Linked DNA regions of Homo sapiens: regions 1, 2, 4 and 5 are each linked to region 3. The links come from fine-mapping of genetic effects on gene expression. A gene starts in region 3. Each other region holds a variant in brackets. All regions are shown on one strand. Distances are between the middles of the regions.

Region 1 (5,084 bases), 32 kb before region 3:
AGATGGAAATAAACCTGCGTGTGGGTGGAGTGTTAGGACCAACGGTTTCCTAGGAGTATGTGGTTTTGCTGTGTGGCCTGTGTCCTGACTCGCACGTCTGCTGATGGCCTGGCTGTTCCTACCGTGGCTCTGTCCTCGCCAGCTTTCCCTGCAGCGGCATAGCATTCGTAGCAGGGGCAGGCGCTGCATGGAGGGGGCTGCGGGGCAGGTGCCTGGAGGCCGCTGTGCCAGGGTGGCCTCTGAAATGTGCCAGGGAGCCCCTACGTGGTGGTTAGATGGGAGCTGAGGTGGAACAAGCCACTTTATTCACTGCTGTGTTTAAGAAACAGGACCCTCCTGCCTTCCCTTTTTCGCCCCTCTGCCTGGCTGGCAGTGTGCGTGGTGTGGTCAGTGCCCAGGGCTGGTCTTTGCACCCTGTCCTCCATCCAGCCCGGCCCAGCGCTTGGGCTTGTCCTGGACACCTAACACCCACCTGCCCTCGTGGCCAGCAGTGGCCTGCGTGGCTGGGAGCCCGGTCAGAGGCCGCCGGGGCCCTCAGTAGGTGCGTCGTGGGCGCTGGGGACGGCAGCGGGTGCCCTGGCGGGCCGCGTGCAGCCGGAGAGATGCCATGTCCCTGCTCCTCTGCAATGAAAAGCAAGCGAAAAGTGCACATCTCAGGTCCAGCTGTCCCCATCTGCCCCTGGCCTTGCGCCAGCTGGGCTTGAGCTCTTGCAGCCCAGGCTCCTGCCTGCAGCCTCAGGGCTGTGGAGGCCTCTAGCAGGGCTCAGGCTGGCGGGCAGTGCCAGCAGTTGCAGGGATCAAGGTCAGACTCTGCACAGCTAGGCCCATGTGTCTCGGCAGAGTCCACCAGTCCCACCCAGCAGCTGAAGGGAGAAAGACGAGGAGGCAGGGAGCAGACGAGGAGGTGGGGAGCAGGCAGCCCGGGCCTCAGAGGACACATGGCCTTCCCCCGCTGGCACCCCCACATCAGGGCCACCAGGGGACTGCTCACACCCAGGGGTTGCCGCCTCTGGACCTGGCTGTCCCTGGTTCTGCTGACCTCAGGAGTGACCTGGGCTTACAGAGGTACTGGCAGGGAGGTCATGGGCCGGGTGAGGGGTGCTCGCTCCTGGAACCCTGTTTCCAGGTATCTCGGGCCCTCACCCTCCCCTAGGCAGGAAGCAGTCTCTCTAGCTCAACTGTCACCCCTCGTCTGCCCCACTCTGGTCCCCACACCCACAGCACACAGCAGAGGCTCAACACAAAGTAGCCAGGCAGTGCTGCTCCCGGACAGACATGCCTGAGGGACCGTGCTCAGTGATTCAGGAGTGGTCCAGATGTGGGAAGGCAGCCACGCTTGGTTGGGGGCACAGGACGTGTGGGGGCTGGGGTCCCTGTGCCGCAGGGTGGGCGTGAGTGGGCGCTGAGTTCTACTACCTCCTCCCTCAGCTGGTGCCTTTAAAGGAGGGAAGCCATGGGGCAGTGGGTCTGCTCTGACCCGACAGGCAGGAGTGAAGGGGAAGGGAAGGGAAGCCCGGAGCCCACTGGGAAGAAGCTGGGGGCAGAGGTCTGGTGCGTGGGCTGCAGAGCTATCCCCCAACCCCGGCGACAGATTCTAGTGCCAAAAGTGGTTCAGGTCTACCGTGTTGTGAAGATCCCCTGACCAGAGACACGTCCGTCCAGAACCCACTGCTACTTGGGGTGGGGGTGGGGGGCAGAGGGCGCACAGACTTCTTCACATGATCCCAGATCAGAGGGAGAAGGGAGGTGTCCGCCCGGCCTGGGCCTTCCCAGAGAACAGCCCTGGAACAGATGTGTGCAAGGCCTGTGCCGGGGGAGGTGGCGGGGGAGGCACAGGGGACCCAGAAAGGGCTTGGTGGCCCCGGACGCTGCCGTCCCTCAGCCTTCCGAGGGGTCTATGGTGAAGCTCCCGGGAGGCGCTGCCCAGTACCTGGAGGGCCTGCTCTTTTCAGCGTCTAAACCATGCCTGAGGACACAGACCCAGCCAGACTCAGGTTCAGAGAACAAGCCCTCTAACTCTGTCCGCTCATGCCCCCGCAGATGAGATGGAACAGGCCTTGAGGACATGCAGCCCCTGCTCCCTCTCAGGGCAGGGAACCCCAGGAGGGCAGCTG[C/T]AGGCCTGGGAAGCTCAGGCAGGAACTGGAACTTGGGTCTTGCCGTTTTCCGGTTGGGGCCGGTGAGCGGGGCAGGGGCTGAGCCTCACCCACGGCCACAGTGAGGCCCCACACGGTGTCTCAGTCTGGGGCAGCAAGAGGGAACCACGTGAGGCGGGCTGGAGACAGGGAAGGCCCGGAAGCCAGCTCAGATGCCCAGGGCACAGCCAGAATGGCTGAGAGGAAGGGCCTGGGAGGAGGCAAAGTCTGGGCAGGAGGGGCTGGCAGAGCTCCAGGCCATGGGCATCCCCACGGTTGGGGAAGGAGTGCATCACAGGCAGAGTTGGCGGGACAGCCCCGGAACGTGGGGCTCAGAAAGCTACACCGTTCTTAGAGCAACCTCCAGGCAAGTGACCCGAAGTCCCTGTGCTTTTTCACTACAAACAAAAATATCCTCCTCTTAGGCAGCGTGACCCTGGCCAAGGGGCCAAGGGAGTGGCCTGGAGTGGAGAGTACTGGGTGGAGGTGGGGGTGGGAGGGGAGCTGGGAGGGGAGGCGGCCTAGCCTGGCTGAGCTCACCCACACACGAGCACAGGTTAGGAGTTGGTGCAGACCTCCCTGCTCTGGCAGCCTGACAGCCCCCGCAGGCCTTGGATAGGGGCCACTGCTGTGTGCTCTGGGGGGGGGGGGAAGAGGAACCCTATCTCCTTGTGCCTGTGCAGGGCCATCGGGCAGCTCCTGGGCTTCAACAGCTCAAGCGACAGGGGGATCCCTGAGCACCACGGCCCTATGGCAGGGGGAAGGGACATGCGCTCACCCCAGGCGGCTGGAGTGCGGCTGCCGGTGCCGCCCGAGAAGGCAGGGACTCTCCAGAACCGTCACACAGAAAGTGCGTGGACTTCTGTGTGCACAACAGAGCCCAAGGGGGCAGCACGGCGAGGAGCAGTCGCCACCCCTCCCTGCCCGGCAGCAGGCCCAGGGGGCAGCTCTCCTGCTCTGCCAGCTCCCAGACACCCACAGGCTGAGAAAGAACAAACAGCCATCTCAAAGAAGTATTTTCACACAGTTCACCTCAACACAGTGAAAACTCTCAAGCTGATGAAATAAAGACCACATGGAAAGGGGAGGGAAGAAAGGTAGAAGTCATTATGAATTTATTATTTACACGATTGTTAAAGTACACAAATACAGTGGCGATACAAACGCACAGCTCGGAGACTGGCCGTCAGTGCACAGCTGACACGACGTCCTACCTACGTCTCCTGCACGGGGCGACGGGGACTAGATACTGGGCAAGGACTGTCACAAGCACTCCGAAGACGCGACCCGGCGAGGCTCGGGCTGGAACCCGGGCGCAGAGCTGCCTCGCACAAACGTTCTGGGCACTACATCGGGACCACAGATATTTACAAAGCAAGCTTGCGCCACTTCAGGCCACAGCGCGACGTCTCTCCGGGTGGGGGACGTCTACCTTCAAGAAGGGGTCCAGCAACAAAGAAAATCTCTTAACTCGGCTCTGACCCACCCCAACCTCCCTCTGTACTTCAACACACAGCTCCCACCCGCTCAAGGCCCCGTACTCCAAAACGCTTACACAGTAACCAGCCTAGGATTGAGAAAGCATCCATGGGCTCAGGCAGACGGCCAGCCAGCTGGTGGGGGGGTGAACAACTGTGTTCTGGGACGCCAGCCAGTTATGGCATCCGGGGAACTCTGGGGAGGAGAAGGGAGAACCAAGGTGCACACCTTCGAAGCCCTAGAGTCCAAAGGGAACATCGTCCATCGTGATGGGGTCCAGCCGAAGTGCCCACGAACACAGACTGCCCTGCGCATTGGGGTTGGGAGCACATGGCCACTGGCTACCGCCCAAGTGCTGCGGAGTGAGAGGCGAGAAGGCATCCTGGGAACCTCAGGGCACAGCAGCATGGAGCCTGGGGCAGCACCAGCTCACGGAGGCCACCTGCCTTCTGGTGGGACTCGGCCCCACGCACGCTGCTTCACTTCTGACCAACAGACACGCGCCCAACAGAAGGTCACAGCGCAGACTCTACTTTCTGGCCGTGAAGGTTCTGGGTCCGGTTGGGAGAGTCACCTGCTCCTTGGCACCTCAGGGTGGGTCCTTCTGGCCTGCCGGCTTTTCTGAGCTAGTCTTGGCACGTGGCAAGGACAGCCCCGCTCCTGGTTTTAAGCACAGGCATTCATACAGACGGAGTGCCAATCCGCACAGGAGCATTGAGTGCTGAGAAAATGGACTGAGTGCAAAGGCAGCAAGGCAACAAACACTACAGTAACCACCTCTCGGTTCACAGTCCTCTCCCAAGGGACCAGAAACGCATCTTCCACCTTGAATCCTGGGACTCCCAATTGTCCTGCTAGGGTCTCAAAGCCTCTGCTTCCAAGCTCTCAGCTGCCTGCCCACCTCCTGGGGAAGAAGCGCGCAGTGCTTTGCCTGGTAACACCCACTGCACCCCTGCCCCGCGGCAGCCTGCGGTCCCTAACTGCTCTCCGAGGGCCTCAAGAGTTCCTGACAGCAGGCATGTCAATTACGGGAGGAGGGAGGGTGAGACGCCAAAATCAGGTTGAAGAGGTCCCACCACACACGGGCACACACACACACCACGGACTTTTGATGAGAAATCTCCTCTCCAAAGCGGACAATAAAACACTGCAAAACAAACACAGCACACACCCTTGAGATCCACCTGCACCTTCTCCCTGCCCGACTCCACCTCATACACTAACTCCAAGCCAGCCTGTCTCAGAATTCCTTAGTCAACATTTTTTTTGTAAGACTGCAAAAACAGACAAGAAACAATAAAAAGACAGATTTTCTTTACACAGATTTAAGCCAATAATTTTTAGCAAAATGATACAAAACTGTCTTAACCAAGTAGAAGATTGGTAGTTACAGTGGAATCGTCAGGGAGTACAGGGCGGCCACCACTGGAGGGAGCTGAGGCCCTGGAAAAGGAGTCTGATTCTCTGCAATTC
Region 2 (5,099 bases), 24 kb after region 3:
TTAATTACCTACAGGTTGTGTGGGCTCCAGGTTTTCGGCATTGTGCCTGCACTGAGTAAAAGCAGACAGTGGCCGGGCGCGGTGGCTCACGCCTGTAATCCCAGCACTTTGGGAGGCTGAGGCGGGCGGATCATGAGGTCAGGAGTTCGAGACCATCCTGGCTAACACGGTGAAAGCCCATCTCTACCTAAAATACAAAAGAATTAGCTGGGCGTGGTGGCGGGCACCTGTAGTCCCAGCTACTCGGGAGGCTGAGCCAGGAGAATGGCGTGAACCCGGAAGGCGGAGCTTGCAGTGAGCCGAGATTGTGCCACTGCACTCCAGCCTGGGTGACAGAGCGAGACTCCATCTCAAAAAAAAAAAAAAAAAGCAAGCAGCTCCAGCTTCTCCAGGCTGTTCTCTGGCCACTAGAGCCAGGCAGCCCCCTAGCTGGTCTTACACTGCATACCTGTGTCTGAGTACTCATTTCACCCGTCGGCCAGGATCTGCGGGACAGACCCGGCATTCTTCGTTATCCATTCATTCGTTGACGGACACTTAGGCGAGTTCCGTACCTTGATTGCAGTGACTAATGCTGCCCTAATGGCATTTCATTGGAAATGAACTATTACAGGAGGGTTTTTGAAGTGGCTTATGATCCAGAAAAGGAATCTTCCAATACCTCTGTGCCCCAAAACCTTGGGTAAAATACCAACAGTGCAGTTGGTCTAAAAGGCACCACTTAAATTGCGTTGCAGATGACGTTGCTAAGGATGGCTTTCTGGTCTCCTGGTTCTGGGCAGCTCCCTGCACTGCTGGTTTCAGTCATGTTGCAAGGAGAGTATTAGCAACTCAGTAGTGATGAGGTTTAGTGGACATTTTATTTAACGTTCTGTCAAATAGGCCAAATGAAATGTTACATATGAAAAGAGCCTATATTCTGATTTCTGCCTGGGGATGTAAACATTAGCTTGCATGATGCCTGGAAGCCCCGGAACCTGAGCTCCCAACCACCTGCCAGCTGCTGGCTGCCCCTCCCTCCCTCCTCTCCACCCCCCTCAGCCTCCTCTTCCTCCTCCCATCCTTCCTTCCCTTCCCGCCTTCCCCCAGCGCCCCATGAAGCTAGTTTTAGAATGGCTTTTTGGAGCAGTTATGTTATAAGGATTGGCAGCTCATGAGTTTAATATTCTTATGGGTCTTCCAAAGTGCAAAGAGAACACAAAGTTACTTTTGCTTTTGTAATAGAGTAAAACGCATCCTATCCTGACCTAAGATGCACAAATCAACCCATCTTGTCAGGCAGATAAACTTCTCATAAACCTGTAAAACATATGACTTATGTATCCCAGTGGTCTTATCTTTCCTATCATGAGATGTCTGCTAGTCCATCATCCTGGAATTATCCATGGAATTATCACCCATCCATGGCTCCCAGCTATGCCACAGTGACTGCAATCCTAAGATTGGGCATCCGGAAGGATGGCCCAACACCGTGCCACCCTGCAGCTTTGCCGCAAGCTGCCCTGGGTCCTGCATCCTCTTCGAGGTGGAATGAGAACACAGCCGAGAGCTCAGGATCTTCCAACTGCTGCCCACAGTGGCAAAAAGAAACCTGGTGGGAGAAGATGAGTCAGACGGAGCCAGGAGCCCGCGGCCGGTGACGCCAGCGGTGGGGGAACACAATGTCCTGTGGGTGATCGGTGAGCGAGCGGACGGTGGATTTCTCCTGCAGTCGGTGGCAGGAAGGATGTCATCACGCGCTATTTTGTGACCAGCCCCTGGACCACAACTCACGTGAGCAGAAGGGCTTTCTTCTTTGCTTAAGATGTCTGTGCTTGCAAACTTACTGGCCACAGGTACAAGGAGGTTTTCTTTGCTTATGTTCATATTAAACATGTTAATAAAGGTTTTTCTTATTGTCCTTGTTTTTACATTTATAAATTACTCATAAGCTGACGAAACAGAAAACAGAGACTCATCTCCGGTTCCCGGTACAGTGAGGTGAGAGCTGCTGTGCTGGGTGCGGGAAGCGCCTGGCCCCAGGTTCCTCCTGGACGGAGGCCAGAAGGGCTGAGCAAGAGCCAGCGAGGCTGGGGAGGAGGAGGA[G/A]GCGCTGGAACAGGAACGGCCGGCCGGGAGGGGCGAGGCTGGGGGACAGTCACGCAGGGCTGAGGCGGGCGTGTGGTGCGGGAGCGTGTGTGTGCAGGAAGCTTGTGTGCGTGCGTGTGGGGAGCGGGTCTGGTGAGGGCGCACTTGGGCCTGAGCCCCTTCCGGCCCCTCGTGTTTGCTGGAGGCTGCGTGTGCTGTGTCCCCACCCCAGATGCTTGCCCTGAGGGGCAGGTTTCCATCCAACACCCCGATTGTCTCCTTCAGTAAACCCCCGGCACCGTCTACCCGGAAGTTGTGGGCTGGGAGGGATGACATGCCCTGGGGACTGTGAGCAGTGGAACCCACGTCATTGCAAGGAAATGATCACACAAACACCAGCTCGGCAGAGTGGAACCTTTGCCAAACCTCAGAGCTGCAGCGAGCGGCTGGGCAACCTTCCTGAGGACGGCGCCCCCTCGCCCAGCTCCAAGCTCCTCCCTGTCCCCACAGGATATCCCTGGACCTGGCGGGTCACTCTAGCCAGAGCAGCCTTCCACAGTCCTCCAGGGTCAGAGCTACAGTTGAGGACCCTGTAGGTGGTAGAGGTGCCCGGGGCCGGGCTCTGGGGCTGGCAGAGGCAATGTCAGCGCCTGCCACCTGCGATGTGGCCAGGGAACTTGGGGCTGAGCAAGGGCACAGAGGGGAGAGTGTGGCATGAGGGAGAGGCGGGACCCCGCAGAGGCTCCCACACCTTCCAAGGCAGCAGAGGAGAAGGGGAGGCTGCCAACAGCCAGACCAGGGCTCCAGGGGGGCGGCAGGGGGCCCAGGGAGCTCCGGGAAATGGGACAGCCACTGTCCACCTGCAGAACGCTGGCTTAAGCCTTGCAGACGGGCCCAGTGGGCAGGGTCGTGATTTTCACTCCCGAAGGGCCTGGGGTGACAAGCCGGAGGTCTGGGAGATGGGACTGGAGACCGTGTTCAGAAGGAGGAGCTCTCCACTCTGTTGGCAAAAGCCCTGGAGCTCCAGGCATCCACAGTGACCGAATGTTGGTAAAGTCCCAGAGGACGGGACCCAGGGCATGCCCCTCACTGGACGGTGGCCTCGGGCCCTGCAGGGAGTTGAATGTGGGGTCATGAAGATGTCAGAATTGCGTCTGAAGATGTCAGAATTGCATCTGAGGAGGCAGGTGGGCACACGTGATGCAGGGACACGCCATGCACCAGGGTGGGTTCAGAGCAGCAGAAGCTCTAGGGGGCACCTACAGGTTTCTATAAAATGGGGGATTTAAGGGGCCTTGGCCTTCTGCGACTGTGGGGCTGGCTGAGGAGCATCTGGGAAGCCACGTGGGAGCTGGAGGTCACAGGGCAGGCCGGCGGGAGGGCAGCGGGGCAGGGATTTGGGCCCCATCTCCAACACTGAGCCTGGGCCGGGCACATAAAGTCCCCACAATTGCTGTGGAAAGAACCAAGTGAATGCCTAACTTCCTGCCAGCCTTCCAGGAGTAACTCAGTAAAACAAAACCAACCAACCAACAAACCCAGAAGAGGCCCGAGGTCCATGGTAAAAATTCAAGAGGTGGAAGGGGCTGGACTATGGGACCAAGGTCAGGTCTTTCTCCTTCGAGGGACCAATGGGTGGCCAGGCTCTGAGGCTGCGAGGTCCCCGACACGGTGAGGGGCACGCCTGAGTCCCGGCCTCTGCATCTCCTCAGGCACCTCCCACTTTTCTGGTGGGTTGCTATTTTCCTTTTCTTTTCTTTTCTTTTCTTTTTTTTTTTTTGAGGCGGAGTCTCACTCTGCCACACAGGCTGGAGTGCAGTGGTGCGATCTCAGCTCGCTGCAACCTCTGCCTCCTGGGTTCAAGCAATTCTCCTTGCCTCAGCCTCCTGAGTAGCTGGGATTACAGGCACTTGCCACCACGCCCAGTGAATTTTTGTATTTTTAGTAGAGACGGGGTTTCGCCATGTTGGCCAGGCTGGTCTTGAACCTCGGCCTCCCACAGTGCTGGGGTTACAGGCTGAGTCCTGCGCTGGCCAGGTTGCTATTCTCTTCTTGTGTTGTGTGCATTCCTCTTCTATTCTGTGAACAAAACCTGGTGCAGGAGACCGTCTGTGTTCCCAAGCTGTCGCCAATACTGGACTACGGATTTTTGAAGCTTACAATTTCATGGGTGCAAATTGCACTTTGCATTTCTGTAACAGTGAGTGCAGTTGGGCATTTTCACATGTATCTAAGCTGTTATCTTGTTTGAGACCGGACCGTGCATTCTTCTCTTCCTTACTGGCTTCGGGACCTCTCTGTGTGCTGAGAAGATGGGCTGCTTGCCCACTGTCCCCTGAAGTTCCACACACCGCTGACTTTGGGGTGTGAGCCCTGCTGCTCCCAACAAACCCCAGCTCTCAGGCTGGCTCTTAAAGTCCCATACTCTGGGCCGGGTACGGTGGCTCACACCTGTAATCCCACTTTGGGAGGCCGAGGCAGGCGGACCACGAGGTCAGATCAAGACCATCCTGGCCGACGTGGTGAAACCCTGTCTCTACTAAAAATACAAAATGTAGCTGGGTGTGGTGGCGCGTGCCTGTAATCCCAGCTACTCGGAAGGCTGAGGCAGGAGACTCGCTTGAACCAGGGAGTCAGAGGTTTCAGTGAGCTGAGATCATGCCATTGCAGTCCAGCCTGGCGACAGAGCGAGACTCCATCTCAAAAAAAAAACAAATCCCATACTCTGGGCTTCCTAACCCTGGACTCTCCCCAAAGCATGCAGAACGTGTGGGATGTACATTTCTCTGTGAGAGGGCGACAGCCCTGGGGGGACCTTCCCATTGGTCCATGACTGCCCAGCCGACTGGGAATTCACCTTGAGGTGCCCTGGCGGGGAGGGGGGCTCCATCTCTTGTCAAAAGTCTCTGCTACCTCTGGGCCTCAGTTTCCCCACCTGTTAGCCCAACTCCCTTCCAGGCCAGGAAGCGCTGGCAGGCGGTCTCCCACCCACGCCCCGTCCCGCCACCAGAGGGCAGGCAGTCCTTCTCGGCTGG
Region 3 (5,099 bases):
AAGGCATATGTACAGGTTCAAAAGCAACAATATGGCATGTGACAGGGTCACCTGGCAGGTTAACCAGGCACCGAAAGTATGAGCCACCCATATGTGTGGATTCGTCCTAACGCTGTCAGCCCACCGGGTCCTGAGTCCTCTCTCTGGTGACAAGTGGGAAGGGTGTGAGAACTGGAGACTGTCCACATGTGGCTTCATCTAAAAGGTATGACCAGAGGCATTACTGACATCCCAGGGGATTCCTGACCCTAGCTGACAGGTGCCCCAGTTAAAACACACCCCAAAGCTAGGGCTGCTGGAACAGAAAACAGCTCCCCTCAAAGGTCTGCAGCAGCCCCTCTGCAGGCACACCGCCTCAGGCTACATATCCTCAAATTCAGGGGATCTTGGAATAACTCGTGCATTGCACAATCCCACTAACAAGTGCGGAAAATTAAGTTACTTTAAAATTACAAACTTGGGCCAGGCGCGGTGGCTTCCCAGCACTTCGGGAGGCCGAACTGGGCGGATCACTTGAGGTCCGGAGTTCGAGACCAGCCTTGACCAACATGAAGAAACCCCGTCTCTACTAAAAATACGAAATTAGCCAGGCGTGGTGGCGCACGCCTGTGATCCCAGCTTTTCGGGAGGCTGAGGCAGGAGAATCGCTTGAACCTGGGAGGCAGAGGTTGCGGTGAGCCGAGATCACGCCATTGCACTCCAACCTGGGCAACAAGAGCGAAACTCCGTCTCAGGAAAAAAAAAAAAATTACAAACTTGAAGATTTAAGCCAACCTTTCATCACACTTGTGTTCACGTGCATATTTTTCCATTGTAAATATGACACAACCCAAAACCTTCTAATCCCATTGTTTTTGAAATCTACCTTGAGACTGTTACAGTCTAAAGGACACCTCATGAGTACAACTACCTCATCTGCCTCTCATCTTGCCAGCATCTTAATCCTGTGTGACTTTCTCTACATTCACCTAAACTTAACCCTTGCTCATTTGCACTCAGTCACCGCTCCAAGGCCAAGGGGAACCGTTCAGAGAGAACCCCCAGCGGGAGGGCAAGCCCCACTCCTAGCCGGGCCACTCCCCCGCTCCACACGGCATTTGGGTCTTTCTGACATTTTCCCCCACGAATGCAAGACACCGGGGCAGCCTCTGAGGGGGCAGCCAGACAGCCCCGGACCGGGCTGCGGAAGAAAGAGCGTGGCCTTTGTTTACTGCGGTGACCTTAGGCGTAGAGGAAGCCGACGCCCGCTTCGCGGCCCCAGCCCTACCCCCTCCCCTCCCACGGCCCGCTGCCCCCACCCCCGCCCTGCCCCTCCCCCAGGCCCGCCTCCCCACGCCCCACCCAGCCCTTCCCGAGTCCGCTCCCCACGACCCTGCCCCTACCCAGGTCGGCTCCCCAGAGACCATGCCCCACCCCGGGTCAGCTCCCCTATCCCCTCCTTCCCCAACCCTCCCCTCTCCAGACCCTGCTCCCCCGACCTGGTCCTGCCCCTCCCCCACGTCCGCTCCCCACTGCCCTCCCCACCCCTGGCCGCGCTAGCCTAGTGGCCGTTGGGTTCTGGCCACGATCCGGCGGTGCCGGGACTTGCGCGGAGACCCCGCGGGGGCCACCACTTCCTTCCGCGATCGCGCTTGGTCTTGGCAGCCGCAGGGCCCGGGTCTTCGGGCGGCGGGCGGGGGCGGCGGGGCCTCACCGAGATAGATGTCTCCGAAGGAGCCGCTGCCGATCTTCCGGCCCAGCCGGTACCTGTTCCCGACTCTCAGCTCCATGGCGGCGGCGGCCCGATTCGCTCCTGCCCTCCCGGCCGCTTCCTGGGTCTGAACTCTGGGAGGCGGCGCCGCTGCTGCCGCTACTGCGGGTCCGGCTCCCGGCTCCGCCCCCCTCACGGCCCCGCTTTCACCATCGCTTTCCTGTCGCCCCGCCGCTCCCAGCGCCTCAATACGGGGCGGATGGGACAGTCCGAGCGCCGCCGCCGCTGCTCCGGCCCCTACCGGTCCCGCTTGCCCTCTCCCCGCCGCGGATGGACTCGGATCTTCCGGGCCTAAATCCCCTTTCAGCTGCCTAAAGGAGCCGCCGCCATCGCGCTGTGACGTCACTTCCCCTAGCAACCCGGCGGGGCGGGGCCGCGGCGCTCCAGGGGCGGGGCCGGGCGGGGCGAGCGCTCCAGGCCTCCTCCCGACCCTGCGCCGTGCCCAGCCCCTCTGCCCTCCTGTTACCCCGGGACCTCGGGCCGCCAGCCCCTTCCACGTGCAGGCTCCTGCTGCTCTCGCGGGGGCTTTTCGTGTGTCCCCCGAGATGTCGAGGAAGCCAGGTGAGTTCCTCGCGACAGGCGGTGCCCTTTGCAGGAGGGGACAGGTAGCTGAGGCGTGGACAGAGTGACAGGCCAGGCTCAGGGGACACAGGTGAGACCCCCTCACTGGGCTGCCAGTTCCCGGGCTTGGGGCATCCCAGTACGTCAGCGTCTGCGGCCTTACCTCCTGACACCTAAGGCCAGAGACAGAGCAGGCCCGCGCCCTGGGAGGTCCTGATGTCCAGCCTGAAGATTGAGGACAAAGCCACCACCTTTCACAAAATGAGGCCAGACCACCTGCCTCCCTCCAGTCCCTGCGGCCTGGAGACGGAGTCAACATTCTTATCTGTGTTGGATCTGAATGTTCCTCCTTGCAAAGGAAACAAGGAGTGGACGTTCAGGCTGATGGCCAGCTTCAAAGATCGGGGCCTTTGATTCCCATCACTGGGAAGAAAGCCCTTCAGACAAGCCCCCCCAGGCTGCAGGTGCATGGGGACCTTGAAGAACCCGTCCCCATGGTCCCACGTCCATGTGTCTCGAGACCTGTCGCATCCTCGCTGAAACTCAAGAATGTGAAACAGGTGAAGGTGTGTTTTGACGCATTAGCATACCAGGGCTGTGGTGTGGGCACCGCCGTGTGAGTGAGACAGCAGCCTCAGCCCGTCCAGGTCACTGCAGAAGAGGAAAGCAGCCCCCACAGGCCCCACAGTGGTGCTCGCCTTTCTCCACCCCCCAGTCTTTCCTCTCCACCCCTCAGCTCCAAACAGCTGGAGGTCAGGTCGGGGAGACGGGCGTCCATTCCCGAAATTACATAGCAGGGCCTGGAGACAGGAGATGCCGCCGGCCAGACCACCATCAGTCACTAATGAGGGATGGGCAGTCGGAACTGCCCAGTTTCTGAGTTACAGAAGCCGGGGGTGGGGGGCTGCCAGACTAGTAAAACTGACCTTGTTGGCGGAATCGCTCACGGCTTTTCTGTTGATGAACAGAGTCCAGCTCTCCCACGGGTGGCTGTGATCCTTCTTCCTGGGGAGTCCTGCTGTCCCTGACTAGGGGCACCTGCCCACCTGTCAGCTGCTCCTCCCTCGGCTGGTCCTCCTGGGCTCTGATGGCCCCAACATTTCTAGCTCTTCTCACCCATAGTGCCCCAAGCTTCATGCAGCTGCGGCAGGTACTGTGCCCGTCTGCCTGGCTTTTGTGTGTTTGTGTCTTGACTCTATAACCCGTGCACACGGACTGGGCTGTGGTGTAGTGGGGATGGCAGGAGCCCTGGGAACATGCGGGCTGGGCAAGGTGAGGCAGGCTGATTGCTGTGGCTCCCCCACCACCAGCCCCAGCCACAACAAACTGACAAAGGAAGAGGACAGTGGTACCCTGGAGCCCTGGGGTCAGAGAGAGGAGGACAAAGCAGGTGTGTAGCCCAGGGAATGACAGCACCCCTTCCGAGAAGACAGGGAGGGTGCAGACATGGCCAGGTTCTGAGCTAGAAAACTGTCAGCAGGGGGCTGAAGCTGAGGATAGTCATTGCCAAGGAACAGCCTCCGTCACAGAGGAGACGCACAGATGCGGTGACGAGGGAGGGATGCGGGGCTGGTGACCGCTGGGAACGGATGTGTGAGGCAGAGTCTCCAGGCATGGTCTGTGGGGCGGTTTGATGATACTAGAACATCTCAGAGTAGAAGGACGTCCCGACCTGCAGACTGGAAAGCCCCCAGAGCTCCCGGCAGGACGTATGAGGGCCAGCCCACACCCAGGTCTGTCCTGATACAACTGAACGCCACAGTGTCTTAGCTCCTTTACTGTTGCTATCAAGAAACACCTGAGGCTGGGAAATTTATGAAGAATCATGAGGTAATTTGTATATTTGTCCACACTAAACCTCATGTTGAATTGTAAACCCCAAGGCTGGAGGTGGCTGGGTCATGGGGGTGGATTTCTCAGGAATGTTTAGTACCATCCCCTTGGTGCTGTCCTTGAGATAGTGAGTTCTCCTGAGATCTGGTTATTTAAAAAGTGTGGGGCACCTCTCTCTCTCGCTCACTCGCTCGCTCGCTCCTGCTCTGGCCATGTGACGTGCCCGCTCCCCCATTGCCTTTCACCATGATTGGAAGCTTCCGGAGGCCTCCCCAGAAGCTGAGCAGAGGCCAGCACCATGCCTCCTGTAAAGCCTGCAGAACCAGGAGCCAAGTAAACCTCTTTTCATTATTTATTTATTTATTTATTTATTTATTTTGACACAGGGTCTCGCTCTGTTGCCCAGGCTGGAGTGCAGTGGCGTGATCTCGGCTCACTGCAACCTCTGCCTCCTGGGCTCAGGTGATCCTCCCACCTCACCCTCCTGAGTAGCTGGGACTACAGGCACACGCCACCATACCTGGCTAATTTTTCATATTTTTTGTAGACATGGGGTCTTACTGGCCCAGACTGGTCTCAAACTTCTGAGCTCAAGTGATCCATCCACCTTGGCCTTCCAGAGTGCTGGGATCACACGCATGAGCTACCATGCCGGCCCTCTTTTCTTTTAAAATTGCCCAGTCCTAAGTATTTCTTTATAGCAAGGCAACCACAGCCTAACACAGCTCACGATGCTGAGGTCTCAAAAGTTCAAGATCGGGCGTCTGCCTCTAGTGAGGGCCTTGCTGCCGCTGCCTCCACTCATGGCAGAAGGTGAAGGGCAGCTGGAGTGTGTGCAGACCGTGTGCGAGAGGGAGCTGGAGGAGTAGGGAAGTACAGGCCTTTTTTTTTTTTTTTAAGATGGAGTCTCGCTCTGTTGCCCAGGCTGGAGCGCAGTGGCGCAATGCCGGCTCAC
Region 4 (5,099 bases), 38 kb after region 3:
AGCCTGTACAGTTGGGGAGCGTTTGCTCTGACAAGTATTGTCTTGTCCCCATTTTACGAATAAGAAAACCAAGCCCGGAGAGGCTCAGTCCTGGAAATAGACGGTGGGGGAAACAGGACTCAGGCAGAGTGCATGCTCTTTGTCACGAGAATTCGACCGGTGTGCACATTGACCCGACACGCCCAGGACACAGCATGCTCAGTCAGGGGCCCTCTACACCTGAGCCTGGGTGGGGGTGGGGACACACTATGAAGGACCCTCCCTGTCCTCCAGGTCCTTTCAGTCTGGCTGTGGACAGAGAAGTGGAGAGACGATTATGGGCATTGAGATGAGCGGTGGAGGCTGGATGGAATCAGGAGGAGGGGAGGAGAATCTTGGGGAGCACGGGCCTGAGCACAAAGGGGATTAAGGAAGAGGAGGACCTCGGGGAGCACGGTTCTGAGCATGGAGGAGATGAGGAGGGGAGGAGGACCTTGCGGAGCACGGCCCCAAGCATGAAGGGGATTAAGGGAGAGGAAGATCTCAGGGAGCACAGCCCTGAGCACGGAGAGGATTAAGGGAGAGGAGAAGGACCTTGGGGAGCACAGCCTGTCCCTGCATGGCCTCTGGTCCCTGGGGTGGGGTCAGGCTGCCGGGGATGCCTCAGATGACAGGAGCTCTGCCGATGGGCTCGTGGTGCTCTCTGCTTATCAGGGACAAGAGGACAGGGGACGTGGAGACAGCACTCTGGTGGGAGCTGAGGGTCAGGGTGTGGGCAGGTTGGCCAGCACGGCCTGGAAAGCACAGTCCTGCCGTTGAGGAGAGCACAAACCCACCTCCCTCATTTACAGATGGCAAAGGAAGGCCCAGAAGGGCAGTGACTTGTCCAAGGCCACCGGGCTGTCTCTCGTATTGGCGGAGGTCCCCTGTGTGGAGCGCCTGGGTTCTTGGAACCTCGAGCCCCAGCCCCTTATCCCTGCGTCCCCTTAGCTTTTCCCTGGTCACTGTCTGGGTCCCACCCGTCAGTGCTGGACGCACGGGAACCAGCATGAGCCGGGCGGGCACGCAGCTGCTGGTGAACAGGTCCCAGGGGCTCCCCACATGCGGGTACCTTAGTGACTTATCCATGTTTACAGAAGAGTTTGGTGGTCTCCTGGTGCCGAGGGCCCGAGCATCAGGTTCAGCGAGAGCAGCAGCGGCCGTGGACACCGCAGAGGCCACCATGAGGGCCTGGGGACAGTGTGACACTGCTGACTGCAGCCCTGGGAACCCGTGAGAACTGGGGGAGCGTGTCCTGGAATGCCAAGCCCGTCGTGGCTGGCGACTCCCTGCCCCGGCTAACACGCCATTGTCAAATACAAGTCCTGAGAAAGTACGAGAAAGAAGGAACTAAACCCACAGCTCATCACCCAGAGAGAACCGTTGTTAGCACCTCGTAAGTCTATTCCATTATTTCAGTCATGCAGAAATAAACATACATACAGGTGTAGCCATGCTCAGCATAAAGATGTTTTGGTCAGCCGGGAGCAGTGGCTCACGCCTGGGGTCCCAGCACTTTGGGAGGCCGAGGCGGGTGGATCACAAGGTCAGCAGATCGAGACCATCCCAGCTAACACGGTGAAACCCCGTCTCTACTAAAAATACAAAAAAAAAAAAAAAGACGTTTTGGTCAACGACGGGCGGCACATGCCACGATGGTCCCATACGATGACAGCAGCTCCACCAGGAAGCCTGGGTGTGCCCTGGGCTCTAAGTCTAGGTCACGCAAGCACACTCGGTGACAGTCACACAATGATGACACTGCCTAGCGATGCGTTTCTCAGAATGCATCCCTGTAAGCAACACGTCCACCATCTATATTGTAACAAATGTGCCTCATACGTCTATTCTGCAGCCGTCTGTGTGGCTTCACGGGGTCGTGTGAAGGTCCTAGGGTGAAGTCACAGATTTTTCCATGGTGCCCTTTTATTTTTTAAGTATTATTATTATTATTATTTTGATATGTAGTCTCGCCTTGTCGCCCAGGTTGGAGTGCAGTGGCGTGATCTCAGCTCACTACAACCTCCGCCTCCCGGATTCAAGCAATTCTCCTGCCTCAGCCACCTGAGTAACTGGGATTACAGGCACCCGCCACCATGCCTGGCTAGTGTTTGTATTTTTACTGGAGACGGGGTTTCACCATGATGCCAGGCTGGTCTCGAACTCCTGACCTTAAGTGGT[T/C]CACCCGCCTCAGCCTCCCAAAGTGCTGGGATGACAGGCGTGAGCCACCGCGCCCGGCCCATGGTGCCCTTTTAACACACGCTGCATGTGCCATAATCACTGTAACAAAATTATCCTGCTTGGAGACTTACATCCTTCCTTAGTTGTTATATATATTTTTAAGATAGGGTCTCAGCTGGGTACGGTGGCTCACATCTGTAATCCCAGCAGCACTTTGGGAGGCCAAGGCGGGCAGATTGCTTGAGCCCAGGAGTTTGAGACCAGCCTGAGCAACATGGCAAAACCCTGTCTCTATTTAAAAATTAAAATAAATATTAAAACATAAAAAATAAAAATACTCACGAGGTCAGGAGATCGAGACCATCCTGGTCAACATGGTGAAACCCCGTCTCTACTAAACATACAAAAAATTAGCCGGGCGTGGTGGCGGGCGCCTGTAGTCCCAGCTACCCAGGAGGCTGGGGCAGGATAATCGCTTGAACCAGGGAGTGGGAGGTTGCAGCGAGCTGAGATCGCACCACTGCACTCCAGCCTGGTGACTCCACCTCAAAAAAAAAAATATATATATATATATATATAAAAGATAAAGATAAAGATGGGGTCTTGCTCTGCCACCCAGGCTGGAGTGCAGTGACACAGTCACAGCTCACTGCAGCCTCAAACTCCTGGGCTCAAGTGATCCTCACACCTTGGCCTCCCAAGTAGCTGGACCACAGGTGCACACCACGATACCCGGCTTCAGTTGTTAATTTTTTAATTGAAAGTTACATTGCAATGAATATCACTATACCTCTAAACTTGTTTCTGTGCCTAAAGATAATTTCCCAAAGAAACTTTTATAGAAGTGGAATTTCCAGGTAAAAGGGGCATTATATTTTATTGTTTTTGTTTTTGTTTTTGTTTTGAGACGGAGTCTCACTCTGTCTCCAGGCTGGTGTGTAGTGGCGCGATCTCGGCTCACTGCAACCTCCGCCTCCTGGGTTCAAGCACTTCTCCTGCCTCAGCCTCCCGAGTAGCTGGGACTACAGGCACCCGCCACCACAGCCGGCTAATTTTTTTTTTTTTTTGTATTTTAGTAGAGACGGGGTTTCACCATGTTGCCCAGGCTGGTCTCCAACTCCTGAGCTCAGGCAATCCACCCGCCTCGGCCTCCCAAAGTGCTAGGATTAGAGGTGTGAGCCACCTCACCCGGTCGCATTATATTTTAATGATATTTACATCTTTGCAAACCCAGTTGGCGAAAGGTTACCTCATTTCAACTGGTGTTGCGTCGACACCCAGCAGTGGGAATGGTTCCTGTGTCTATCGCTCATTTTTGGAATTTGCGTATTTTTAGTTGGTGTTTTCTTCCCATGGATTGATACGGCTGTGTATGAATTAAACATACTAACCTTTGATTTGTAATTTACTTGTCAAATATTTCACCCTGATTTGTAGACGTTTGTTGTTTATTTTTGTTTGTAGTGTTTTTATAGAGTTTAATAGTTCCCACTGTGCAGTTGATTGTATTAGTTTTTTGTCTCTGTGACCTCGATGGATGATTTGATGGTGACTGCGGTCAGGGGCTCCGGAGCCTCTGGGTCTGCAGCTGTCTTCTCAGCCAGGCACTCTCTCGTACTGACGGGGGTCCTCCGTGTGCAGGGCCGAGGAAACCACCGTGGCCAAAGTGGACCACCAGCTGAGCGTGGCTGGGATGCTAGCAGCCCCCAACCCTGCCGGCCTGGGATGACGGCGGCCTGGGATGACGGCAGCCTGGGGAGAGAGGGCACTCTGATTTCTCCTCCTGACGGTGGGCCTGGATGGGCTGGAGAGGACTTGGGCCTCGGCCCAGAAGCTACTCCAGGTGTCACAGAGACCACATTCAAGGTTGGAGGCCGCCCCAGGCTGCCCATGTGAAGCTAGGGGTGCTGACCAGAGGCCGGCTCCTGGACGTGAGTCCTGGACACCAGGACAGTGGCCTAGAGCCTGCACAGAGGCAGCTGGATGAGGCTGTGGGGCGCGTCCTGCACAAGGAGGACCCCGGGTTAACGCGCCAGTGCGGCAGGAGGAAGGGCTTGAGGTGTGGGTGTGGGGTGAGTGAGGGGCAGGTGTGAGGGGTGGGTGAGGAGCCTGCACATAAGGCCCCGCCTTTGCTCCCCACCTGTGTCGCAGGAGGCAATGAAGTGCAGTGTGTGGCGCCCTAGCGGCTCCCCAGGCAGTGGCTGAGGGCCAGTGCCTCTGTTTCCCCCGGGAATGGGCGAATGGTGGCTCCTGTCCCCACGTGCAGCATGGGAGCTGCGCTGGCTGGGGAAGGTCTGGAGAGTCCAGCTGGGTCTCCCCCGGGGCCTCTGAGAACGAGGAGGAGGCACCTTGTAAGACGGGGCAGGGAGGGGAAGCGCTCAGGCTGCTGAGTGAGGCAGCCTTGTGCTCAGCTTGCTGGTCCCGGTGTGCCCTGGGGTCGGCCTCGGAGGCCTCGGGAGGCGGTGTCGCTGGAGTGGGGGTCGGGGGCATGGGGGGCCATCCTGAGGCTCCTGAAGGGCCCCTGGGTCTGGCCTCCACCTGGACAGGTGGATGTGCTTCTTCTCAAGGGTGGGAGGCCCCCAGGGCTCCTTTCAGGGCTGGGGTGAGGAAGTGCTCCCTTCCCCACCTTCAAGGCCACAGCTGCAGAGCCCCAGGCGGAGGCTTGGGGAGGGTCCGAAGTGTCAGCCATCTCCCTCCCTGGCTCCTGCTGGCTGAGGAATAAATGCAGAAGTCAGAAAAGGAAGCACAGAAGCCTTTATTTCTGGTACGGCTGGGTGGGGGACTGGTCTCCTCCCGTCCTCTGCCGGGCTGCCTGGGGGTTGGGGGCCTGCTGGTGGGTGGGCCGGCACTGACAGGAGAGGGCCGCGTGCCCAGGCCCATCCCACAGAAAAGCCCTCCTT
Region 5 (5,099 bases), 24 kb before region 3:
TTGGGAAGAAGTTATACAAAAAGGTCTGTTTCTAGTGAAATTATTAGTGAATTAGAAACGTGCAGTAAAACCCCAATCATTAAAAGACGGCAAGTGGTCAAGAGTGCTCCCCACTCCGGCATGTTCCTGGCTAGCCAGCTACACCCAGCCCCGCTCACGGCAGCAGGCCTGGCTCCATCCTGTGATCCCAACAAACACCTCCCCACAAGCCCAGAGCCAGGCTCCAGGGCATTTCTGAACTGAGTTCCTGCTCATCCGGAAGACCCGTGGGGGATCTGGGCACCCCCCAGGATGCCTGCTGGTGAAACAGCCCTGCCCCACTAACCCTGCCCCTGTTGGCGAACAACCCAGAAAACTATTTGAAGAAATATAATGGATCCATATGGAGAAAGCTGTTCTAGTTCAAAGAGCACGTTAGCAAACGCAAAAGACAACAAAAGCCAGAGCGAGGAGAGGAGAGACCGCTGCAGGATGCTGAAGAGGCGGTGGCCGTGGCTAGGCCTGGGCTGCGCAACAGGGTACTTCTCGTCCAAGGGAAGACAGGTGAGGCCGTCAAAAGAAGGAAAGCCTCGTTGCAGGGCATGCCACCAGGGAGGGTCTCACAAGAAGCCCGTGGAGGTCCCTACGGGCCTCCATCCCTGGCCAGTGGCAAGAATGAGGAAGAATGAGGAAGGCTCCCTCGGGCTGGGGGCACCCACAATGGGGCGCAAGCAGGCGAGCGGTGTCAGCTGCCTGGGGACGGCTGCGGGCAGCGGGGCACTCAAACAGCAGGAGAAAGCCCCCACGGTTTGCTGGCCTCAGGGACCTGAGACCTGAGACTGGCCACCTGCAACCAGGAGACAAGCCCCATGACGGCCCAGCATGTCTCCCAGGCCCTCCCGAGAAGCCTCATCTGCAACCAAGACGCCACACCCTGGCGAGATTAAAAACTCTCAAAAATGGGGGGAAGAAAGGAAAGAAGAAGCCCTGGAGAAACCACAGCCCGCTCTTGACTCGGACGGGGTAGCCCGAGGCCCAGCGCCCGCCCGGGAGCTCTGCACCTACCTGTGAGGTGGACATGCGAGAGGTATCTTGTCGGCCTGTGAGGTCGGACGAGGAGATGTTGACGGGGGCCCCGCGGTGCAGCCGCATACTCACTTTCCGCTCTCTCTCCATGCCGGAGACGGGCCGGGGGGAGGTGTTAGCTGAGGACAGGGAGAGAAACGGAGTGGGCCGCCCCCGTCTGCTGCCTCTCACTCGGGGCTTTCTATGAGAGGCTGTGGCCAGAGAGGACCCTGGGCTGCCTGGACAGTCAGGACCTGGCTGTGGCCGATGGCCACCAACACTCAGATCCGGCCGGAGGGACACAAAGGGACATGGGAGCGAGGTCAAGGGGCTCACAGGGGAGGAACGTGAGATGCGGGAGGAATCACGCACACCAGCAGGTGCCGGCATTTCTAAAGGCGCCTGGGCAGCCTGGCTCATCCACCCTCAGGAGCGAGCATCGCCTGACACAGGGCACTTAGTGTCCACCACCAAGTACCCTGTTGTCCCCACCAACCCCAAGACACAAGAAGTCACCCCAGAGCCAGCCCCAGAGCGCTGGGAGGGGGGCACTCACCCGTGTGTGAGGTAGGGGTGAGGGGTGTGGGGGGAGCCACTTCCTGCGTCCCCCGCAGGCGGCCGGAGGCTGTGGAAGGGAGGCCGCGGGTAGCCGGGTTCCGCGAGTGTCTCAGCCGCTCCTCTCGGTCCCTGCGCTCCCGCTCGGCGTCATCGGCGGCCCGGCTGGCACCCTGAGGAGGCAGGAGGTGAGGCCGGAATGGAACCAGCTTTGGCAGAAAGCAACCCTAGGTCCTAGGCTGCCCCGGCCACGTGAGAAAATACCTACCAAAGGGCACTGGGACGAGACTGCCTGCAAAGCCCCCCACAGGCTGCACGTTTCTCCTCATGGGATGACAGCATCATCCCCACAAGGGGTCAGAGCCAGGCCTCTCAGCTCCCCCAACAATCGAAAAAACCCCACTCGCCATGGCATCTCCCTGTGGGCTCAGAACTTCCTTAAACTTCCAAATGGGCAGCAGCTACCCCCTGCTGCTCTGTGAACATGCTCACTAACACGTGCAGAAAGAGGAGAGGGACAGGAACCATCGGAGGCCAAAGACAGGCCCCAAATGGTGACAGCTGGGGAGGAAAGCGGGGTGGGGATGAGAGCGT[T/C]TGGTCGGACGAGGAGTACACTCAGGGTCCGGACCCTGCAGCCTCCAACAGCCTGTGCAGGTGTGGTGGCGTGGCCAGCAGCCGGCAGCCGGATCTGTGCTGCACTATCCAGATGCACGGGGGTGGGGAGGTCAGATTTTAAGCCGAGACAGCAACCTATGAAAAAGCAGATTCTAACTGCCAATGCTGTGCGGCAGGGGCCTGCAAACTACAGCCCCGGGGCCAAACCCAGGTGCCACTTCTTCCTGCAAGTACAGCTCATTGGACACAGCCACGTTCACCAGGCAACACACAGACCGACACACCTGCGGCTGCAGCACCGTGCGGCCAGCACCGCCCAGACTCCTCATGCTGCCATTTACGGAAAACGCTGGCCTAGCCTGCTCTGAGGGCCGGGTGACTCTAATGCCGCAGGAGGGTCGCTCTGATTCCTCCCGAGGCAGCACAGCCCCGGCAGAGGGACTGATCTGCCCTGCCGAGTGCACCCCTCCCGGCACCTGGGCCCCGAGGCTCGGGCCTGCCTCGCCTGCCATCTCTCCGGGGCCTCCAAGTACTCCCCACGCTGATGGGCACTTGGCAAGTAAGTCAAGATGAACAGAGTGCACCCCTCCCAGCATCTGGAGACCCCGCCCCTCCCTGGCCCCTGCACGACTACTGGACAAGGCTGCCGTTTTTGTACCCTCCCAAGAGGCAGTTCTGCTCCTCCATCAGACTGCTGCCTGGAAAAGCTCCAAATTCTATTTAAAACTGACAACAAAACAGTAAGTTTTTAATGAAGGAACACAACAGTTCCACAGGAGCTTCATTTCTGACAGCGGTGTCTGAAAAGTAATTCAGCTCAGACATGGACCCAGGGCTGGGCTGCCTGTTTTAGAGGCTCCACTGCATACTCACACCGCATCAAGAAAGCCACAGGGAAAATCAGCTCATGACAGGGTCAGTCAGGCTAGACGGGTAGCACCTCACCAGGCCCCAACCCCACTCATCTCGTGGGCACCACGACCATGTGGCACAGCGAATGGGAATGCGCACCCCCAGCCCCCACCCTCTGCCCCCAGGGCATGCTCTGGGCCCTAGCTCCGCTTGGTGACAGGGAGGGAAGGGGCCTCCTGCTGTCCACACCCAGGAATTCCATGGACCCCTCTGCGTTCCCTAATGGCGTCTTACTTCTTGGCACCCCTTTCTGGCAGGCAGACACCCACTCAGTCCAGGTCCTGCCCACTACACACTTGCCCTTCACAACCAGAGACACTCCCTATATGGTACAGCCCCTCAACAAGACGGCCGCCGGCCTCTCACTGACAAGCCATCCCCCGCACACCACACTCAGCGAACGTGCTGGCAGTGCGACTTACAAATTTGAGCATGTTCCAGTCGAACACGTAGTCATAGGAGAAGCCCTGGCGATGGAACAGATTCCGGAAAAGCTGCCGCAGGTACGAGTAGTCAGGCTTGTCGTCAAAACGCAAGGAACGGCAGAAATTCAGGTATGTGGCAAATTCGGCTACAAAACAAGAAACTCAAAGCTAACTCATGAAACCCAACTGCGACTCAAGGTGTCTCTGCCAACGTCGCTGTCTACCTCCTGCTGCTGCACACTCAAGGGGAGAAGGACAGATGCAAAACACCTGTCAGATTTCTAAGACCTGAAGCCTTGAGAAAGCATCGAAAAGTATTCAAGTCACGGCCGGGTGCGGCGGCTCACGCCTGTCACCCCAGCACTCTAGGAGGCTGAGGAGGGCGGATCACGAGGTCAGGAGATCAAGACCATCCTGGCTAACACAGTGAAACCCCATCTCTACTGAAAAAAAAAAAAAAAAAGTTCTAGAGCGTGGTGGCGGGCGCCTGTAGTCCCAGCTACCGGGGAGGCTGACGCAGGAGAATGGTATGAACCCGGGAGGCGGAGCTTGCAGTGAGCCGAGATCACGCCACTGCACTCTAGCCTTGGCGACAGAGTGAGACTGTGTCTTAAAAAAAAAAAAGAAGTCATAAAGCACAATTTAGTTTCATTTGAGGTGTGTATCCTGGGGCAATCCTACAAATGCAAAGGAAATCTCCCGAGCTCCTGGAGGGGGCCAGAGAGGGCAGCCACTGCAGAGAGAGGCCCCACCACTGCCTGTCCATCCCTTTCCAGCCACTTGGGGCCCTGAGGCTCGGGCCTGCCTTGCCTGCCATCTCTCCAGGGCCTCCAAGTACTCCCCACGCTGATGGGCACTTGGCAAGTAAGTCAAGATGAACAGGAGGGCAGGCTGTTACCTCCATACACAAAAGCGCCCCGCTTTCCTGCCACCACCCCTTTGGAAGGTGAGCAACTCTTCTGACAAAACCCAGACTGAGCCGTCTCGGCACACCCGACACATATGCAACCCCTGTGAGCAGCTCCGCTGAGAAGAGGCCTCCAGAGACTTACAAGGGTAGCCTTTACACAACACTTCGATGGGGGTGGACATTTTCTTCTCGCTAATCCTTTCGTATTTCTGTCTCTTGGTGGCAGCCTTCAGCCCCTGCCAGGGGAGAGAGCCCAGGTTGAAGTACATTAGCACGTAGCCCAGAGACTCCAAGTCATCTCTTCGGGATTGTTCTGAAAAGAAAAGGGAAAGGCGTGAAGAACGGCACTTGCGTGCTCACGTCAAAGCAAAAGACCCGGCTGGCCGTTCCAGTGGAGACTAGCCTCAGACACACATGCCCAGATCACTCCAGCTGGCACTTCCAGTGGAGACGAACCTCGGACACACATGCCCAGATCACTCTCACCCAGAGCTGCCCCTCATGCATACTAAGGAAATTCCCAAACACATCACAGGTGACTCAGAAATGTCCCAGCATCCGCCTGCCCCCATACACCTGGCAGTCACGAGCCAGCCTGTCTGCCGCAAAGGTCTGATGACACGCTTGCAGCCCCAGCT

Evidence for each region.
Region 1: its variant is fine-mapped to the expression of CSNK1D in whole blood (TOPMed, PIP above 0.99).
Region 2: its variant is fine-mapped to the expression of CSNK1D in whole blood (INTERVAL, PIP above 0.99).
Region 4: its variant is fine-mapped to the expression of CSNK1D in blood mononuclear cells (TOPMed, PIP above 0.99).
Region 5: its variant is fine-mapped to the expression of CSNK1D in whole blood (TOPMed, PIP above 0.99).

The regions. Positions count from the first base shown.
Region 1 is chr17:82,239,442-82,244,525 of GRCh38, forward strand. SLC16A3 (solute carrier family 16 member 3) reads left to right here. Exons shown (of 5, transcript NM_004207.4): 5 at 1-645. It overlaps CSNK1D (casein kinase 1 delta), which reads right to left. Exons shown (of 9, transcript NM_001893.6): 9 at 3,226-5,084. Among named protein-coding and RNA genes, the nearest start is that of MIR6787, 5.3 kb to the left of the region's middle. RefSeq lists enhancers at 1-130, 4,422-4,501. The variant C/T (reference allele first, on the strand shown) is at 2,115.
Region 2 is chr17:82,295,897-82,300,995 of GRCh38, forward strand. No RefSeq gene overlaps it. Among named protein-coding and RNA genes, the nearest start is that of LINC01970, 5.6 kb to the left of the region's middle. RefSeq lists enhancers at 2,041-2,672, 4,842-4,911. The variant G/A (reference allele first, on the strand shown) is at 2,086.
Region 3 is chr17:82,271,613-82,276,711 of GRCh38, forward strand. It overlaps CSNK1D (casein kinase 1 delta), which reads right to left and starts at 2,088. Exons shown (of 9, transcript NM_001893.6): 1 at 1,694-2,088. The coding sequence starts at 1,769. It overlaps LOC124904089 (a long non-coding RNA gene), which reads left to right and starts at 2,166. Exons shown (of 2, transcript XR_007065953.1): 1 at 2,166-3,461. RefSeq lists silencers at 1,488-1,537, 1,588-1,777, 2,018-2,227 and an enhancer at 5,089-5,099.
Region 4 is chr17:82,309,935-82,315,033 of GRCh38, forward strand. CD7 (CD7 molecule) reads right to left here. Exons shown (of 4, transcript NM_006137.7): 4 at 4,939-5,099. Among named protein-coding and RNA genes, the nearest start is that of CD7, 5.1 kb to the right of the region's middle. RefSeq lists an enhancer at 4,285-4,872. The variant T/C (reference allele first, on the strand shown) is at 2,200.
Region 5 is chr17:82,247,831-82,252,929 of GRCh38, forward strand. CSNK1D (casein kinase 1 delta) reads right to left here. Exons shown (of 9, transcript NM_001893.6): 5 at 4,604-4,774; 6 at 3,549-3,697; 7 at 1,601-1,772; 8 at 1,045-1,184. Among named protein-coding and RNA genes, the nearest start is that of MIR6787, 14 kb to the left of the region's middle. RefSeq lists an enhancer at 4,471-5,099. The variant T/C (reference allele first, on the strand shown) is at 2,194.